Regions from separate parts of the Homo sapiens genome. Here region 1 is linked to region 2. Evidence: fine-mapped expression QTL. Tissue or cell type: whole blood. Region 2 holds a variant in brackets; the other region holds the start of a gene. All regions are shown on one strand. Distances are between the middles of the regions.

Region 1 (2,916 bases), 65 kb after region 2:
ATCCTCTGTCCTTTGATACCCACCCAGCCCCTCCTGCCCCATCTGGGGCTGAGAAACAGGACATATCAATTGCAGTAAATTGCCACATCCACCTAAACAGGGTGTCCAGCATGTTTTTGTAACACCAACACCTGTTTGTTTAGTCATGCTGGGCCAGGTGTTTCAGCATAAAATACAAATTGAATTCCTCCCCTCAGAAGGGCTTGCAGTCAGATGATAACAGACAAGGCAAACAACTGAAACACCATTGATACATACTATATGGAGAGATGGACATCTATTCCAAGACCTCAGGAGGTGGAGATCAGGTGCCATTGGGCCCCATAGCAGCACTGTCAGCTGGAGTGACACAATGGCCAGGAACTGACCAGGACCCCGCTCCCTTGGTCATGTGTCAACACAGCAGGGAGAGTGTCCTGGGTGTCCTTGGATTGCAATCACGAGCATCCAAGTTACCCAGAGTCTGAGCCTCAGTTTCCCTATCTGTGAAGTTGGGAGATGATTAGTAAATATCCTCATAAAGATGTTCAAAAATTCAAATACACAACAATATCTGGAAAATAGTTTGGCTTCAATAAATGTTCGTTCTTTTCCCTTAATTTTTTAATTTTAATATTAAGATTAGTGTCCAAAGCTGTTATCCCTTCTTCAGATAATTATACACAGAAAGCAGGAATACAAAGAACGTCCAATCTCTGAACCACCTCAGCTGACCTGAGACCAATTTTCCAAATTGTAGTAAACACAAATGCATGCTCTCTACTCATGCCAACGCTGCATAAGTATCAGCTGGATCCCAGTCCACAAACACATGCAGTGCAGCTTCCCAGGGAAGTCACGGAGGGACAGGAGTGGAGCCTCTTACCCCAAGTCCTGCCCCCTGGAGCTACTCACCACCAGCAGAGACCCACCCATTTTCTTCAGACCAAAGACGGAGGGTGGGTACAGGATCCATCAAGTCCCTCTGAAGACCCTCCCCCACATACCACCCCAGGCCACCTATGGCCCACCCAGGGGGTCCCAATGACAGCAAAGTTAGCAACCTACCGGTGGAGCATCAGGGCTGCCTGAGATGTTCTCCATTCGCAGCAAATGATCTTATTTTCTGAAGTAGCAGCTTTCTATTGAAATTCTTCATCAGTCGCTGTCATGGGGAATTTCTCCCCCTTTTCTCTTTCTTTCTAACTGGTGAAATTGACAGTCTGCCTACATTATCCAGGCATTCATTTGCATGATCAAAAGCAGATTTGTTCCAAGATGCAATGTTCTGCCTTCCCTTCCAAGCACAGGCATCTCCAAGGAAGGCGAGAAAAATCAGAAACAGAGCGCCTCCGCTGTGCCCCTAAGCTTGGCCAGGAGTTGGCCTCGTCTGGGAGCAGGTGGAGTGGGGGCCCTGTGGGTAGCAGTAGGGGGAGGGCAGCCCATGTGGGAGTTGGAAAGCAGCACCTGGCAGCCCGAGGCGCTGGCACGAGCCCCAGCACAGGAATATCCAGTCTTTGGTGACAGATTATAGTAAGAGGAGTATGCAGGAGTTTCCAGTGTGTGTGTGATTTCCTGAAAGGAGGCACTGCTGCCTTAAATCCCCAGCACTCAGGGACGGGAGGGTGTTAGGGTCTGAACCCAGGGCATCGCGGGGACCTGGATTCAGAAAAATGGGTCACAATTCTTAGCTTTAGCCACACGATGTAGGAGAGTTGCTGAACTGGTCTGAGCTGCAGTTTCTTTAGCCTTCAAATGGACACAGTGAGAGCCACCCTGTCTGTCTCTTGCAGTGTTATAAGAAGCGAAAGAGGTATCTCCCAACACCCAGAGAGCCCTGTAGGTCTCATGGCTCTAGGATGCCCTTGCACACTGTAAACCCTCCACCCTGGAGCTATAGCCCCACATTACCCCTCACAGCTGACGCTTACACGTCACGTTGTCTAATTCTCCCCAGGGGCCCTGTGAGCTGGGATTATGGTTCAGAGAAAGCTGAGGATCAGAAGGACTGACTTGTCCCCCCCAAAATATTAAAATATTGTATTTCATGACTGCATTGTTATAAGGATGAATGTAAACCAGGCTGGATTCATTATTACATTTTCATTATTATTATATTTTTTCTTCTGATTTTAAAAGAAATTAGAAAGAAAAGACTTTTGTGAGTTCCTAAAAGTGCAGTGAGCCCTTGGCCCTGAGCAAGCTGTGCTTGATGGAGAAGTAAGTCCTTGTCCCTTAACACCATAAGGAGCAGTGAAGTCAGGAGTCATTCAAGCATTAACCCATGCAGCATCTCTCCAACATAGATTATTCAGAGGCTTCTGTGCGCTGGACTCTCTCTAGGCTTTAGAGGGCACAGTTGTAACCTAAACAGATAAAGCTTCTGACTCGGAGAGTTCATGTTCTCATGAAAGGACACAGATGATGTAAGTAAATAAAGAATTTCAGATCTTAGAAATGCCCTGAAGAACACTGAAGTGGGGCCATTGCAGAGGAGGCGATGGAATGGGGCAATTACTTTAGGGGCAGTCAGAGAAGGCTTTTCGGAGGAGGTGACTTCTGGACTGAGGCCTGAGCAATGGGGAGCCAGCGATGGGGATTGAGGTACAGAGTGGGTGCAAAGGCCCTGGGGCAGGAGTGGTCCTGGCTGTTTGGGGGTCACAGGGAGGTCAGTGCTAGGAGATCCAGTGGCCAGTGGAGGGACTGGGAGGAGAGGAAGTCAGAGGGATGAAGAAGACCAGTTATGAGATCTTTCAGGCCATCAGAAAAGTGACTTTATTCTCCTTGCAGTGGGCAGTTACTGGAATGTTTCAAGCTAATAATAGAAGGTGATTATATTGATCCACTGTTTTAAAAAGGAACATTTCTGGCAGCTATATGGAAAATTGACTAAGGAGATGTGTGACCCAGGAAGTAGAGATCAGATTGGGCTCTATT
Region 2 (2,916 bases):
TAGCTCCTTCAGCATGCAGTCTTGCTCTTCCTGCCTGCAGGAATTGCCCCATTATTCCTGCTGACTCCATACACTTCCTAGATCTTTACAAGGCTGTTTGCTGCTCATCTTTCAGGCCTCAGCCCAAACATTGCCTCTGCTTGGAGGCCTTTCCTAAGCCTGGACCTGAAGGATGTCCTGCCTGCCAGGTGACTGCTTGGAGCCTGCCCTCATCCTCATCACCATCATTACCAAGCATCTTGTTTATTTATGATGTCAAGCTCCATGATATCAGAGACCTCATCTGGTTTTCATTGCTATAGCCCCAGTACCTGAGCAGTGTCTATTTAGTAGGTGTCCAGAAATATCTGCAGAAAGAAATTCTTGGAAGAACAAATAGCGCAGCTATCACAAGTAACGTGCAGAAAATCTAGGCAGGACGTTTTTATAACAATCGTTCAGAATTTGGTGTTTCCTTCAATCCCTTAGGCCCATCTTCAAGTTTCGTAAGACACCCCCCAGAGTCATACAATCTGCTTTTTCTTAAGGTCACACCTAAAGAAGATGCTGAGCTGCTAACTGGCACCAGGTTTCTCTGGGTGATCTTTACTCCTCTCTCTCTAGTTGCACGTTTATTTGAAAATTTGAAACCCACTGAGCTTCTGAATGAACCACCCATCCTCCTCAACCCAGAAACTCTCCCTGTGTGCCAAGGGTTAAATATTTATTAGGTTTGTTTTAATCAGGAATAAATACATGATTTAGCAAAGTGTAATGCTTCCCACTGAGAAATCCCTCTGGGTGCTCCCCAAATGTTCCAATCACATTCGTCACAACGGAAAACAACACATAAGATACTGTGCAGACATCTGGAGTTCAGGGGGTCACCCTGCCTTATGCGGGAAGTCAATGTCCACAGTGTTACATTCATTTCTCATACGTTGGCTGGTTCCTTTGAAATAGCCTTTTGGAACGGTTGGGGAAACCACAGATGTCTCCTTGTATAAACACACTAGAATCTATGATACAGAAAACTGTGTAACTGCACATACACATACCAGTAGCACGATGAGCTCAGATGGACGGAATGCTTATGTGAGCAGACAGACAGGGAGAGATACTGCAAGCATGTTCCCCTCCTTCCCCAGGATCCCTTTGAAACAGGGAAACATGAGTCACAGATTCATCTGCAGCCCACTCTCTTCCTAGTAGGATTTGGATGGGAGCTTCTCCTTCTCTGGCTATACATTGTGTTTTCTCCCTTGTCTCTTAAAATTATGCATGACATCATTAATCCACTTGGACTCCCCATCTTTCCTGGAGCTGAGCATTTTTCCTCATATGGATGCCAGACCCTTCTTAGAATAAAGTACCGGGTGAGTTAATTCTTTAGACTGTATCCATTTCTTTTCTAAAAAATCCAGCTATTCTTACCTACCCGATCCAGCCAGCCCTTCCACTCTGAAGAGCAGCTGGAAAATGAGCTCCTGAGTGTCCCTCACCTGTCTCTAATTCCATCCTAAGCCATGAGCTGATTTCTCTTTTTACACATTTGTTTATACATTTTTTCCCTGTCTACACTGTGAACACCTCTGTTGGGGGTTAGGACTTACGCATCTTTTTTTTTTTTTTGGCTTGCCTGACACCTTACAGAGGACTTAATGCAATGCCTATTCGGGCAATAAATGAATACTTGATGCATTCATACAGGCAAGAATCCCAGCATCCCAGAGAAGCTCTGTCTGC[G/A]CTGCAAAGCCATGGCTGCAGACATCAGGGAAGCTGGTGCAGTTCTAGTCTCGCCTCCTCGATTTCCCTGCCAGCAGTCTTCCTCTCTCTCATTCTTCTGGCCCTCTGCAGAACCAGGGAGGCCAACTGACTTCCACCCATATGGCTTTGGTGCAGGAGCAGACCAAAGGTATCTCCCAATTGAAGGCTAAGAAGTCCTTTGGGCTAATGTTTAGTGTCACGAAGTTCCTTTAAAAAGAGAGGAAAGCATACCAGAAGTCCCTATGGATTAGTTAAAGTAGTTCCATTCAGGGCACCCATCTGCAAACCCAGACCTTCTGCCAGGACACAGCTTTTGTTTCCTCTCCCTCTCAGGCTTGCCCATACAGAAGTTCTCTCCAATGACCTTGGAGTGTAACTGTCTGGACAGGTCCAGTTCCTTGGAGAGCAGTCCTGGTGCCCTTTCTTGTGAGAGTGGCTTTGTCCTTCCCACACACACAATGTGTGCATACATACATGCTGGGCTCTTCCAAGCATCGCCCGACATGTCATGATCCAATGTTTCGTGATGCCACAGCCCTGATCAGACACCAGGGAGGGGTTCCTTTGGTCATGATGTGGATAGAGAAGATGCGAATTTGAGTCTCCATGTGGCTTCTCTTGGCTTCTAAAATACGTGAGGCTCCCAGGGATCAGGGAACCTCGCTTTTCGCAAGATCCCAGGCAATAGTTGGAACTTCTGTTCCTTTTGGGCATGAACCATTGTGTCTGTTCTTGGCTAGTCCTCAAAGTAAGGTGGTGATGAGAAGAATGAGCTCTTTCTCTTGCTGCCACCATACATCAGGGAGATGCTTTTCTTCTTTCGATCAAAGGAGGTGTTGTCCTCACTGGTCAGGGACAGGTAAGAGGCAATGCTCTCTCGAAGGCCATAGCTGAAAAGGGACTCGTCTACCCCAAGCGGGTTCTCTGTTCCCTCGGGGTCCTCCTGCAGTCTGTGGGCCAGAAGAAAAGGCAGTAGAGAAAGGGAAAAAAAGAGAGTCATAGAGAGAGGAGGAGATAAAGGGCAAGAGAATGAGAACAGGAGGAAAAGAAAAACAAAAATCCTGGTGACTATTTCTCTAACTTATTATTATTTTTCTTTATTTATTTTAAGATGGAGTCTCGCTCTGTTGCCCAGGCTGGAGTGCAGTGGTGCAATCTCTGCTCACTGCA

The links. PIP is the estimated chance that this variant, and not a neighbour inherited with it, causes the effect.
Region 1: SLA starts here. The variant in region 2 is the best candidate, but not a certain one, in a credible set for the expression of SLA in whole blood (TOPMed, PIP 0.77).

Annotation. Positions count from the first base shown.
Region 1 is chr8:133,101,506-133,104,421 of GRCh38, forward strand. SLA (Src like adaptor) reads right to left here and starts at 1,097. Exons shown (of 9, transcript NM_001045556.3): 1 at 1,048-1,097. The region is part of intron 43 of TG (thyroglobulin); the gene reads left to right.
Region 2 is chr8:133,036,042-133,038,957 of GRCh38, forward strand. The region is part of intron 41 of TG (thyroglobulin); the gene reads left to right. It overlaps SLA (Src like adaptor), which reads right to left. Exons shown (of 9, transcript NM_001045556.3): 9 at 687-2,696. The coding sequence ends at 2,483. Among named protein-coding and RNA genes, the nearest start is that of MIR7848, 9.1 kb to the right of the region's middle. The variant G/A (reference allele first, on the strand shown) is at 1,726.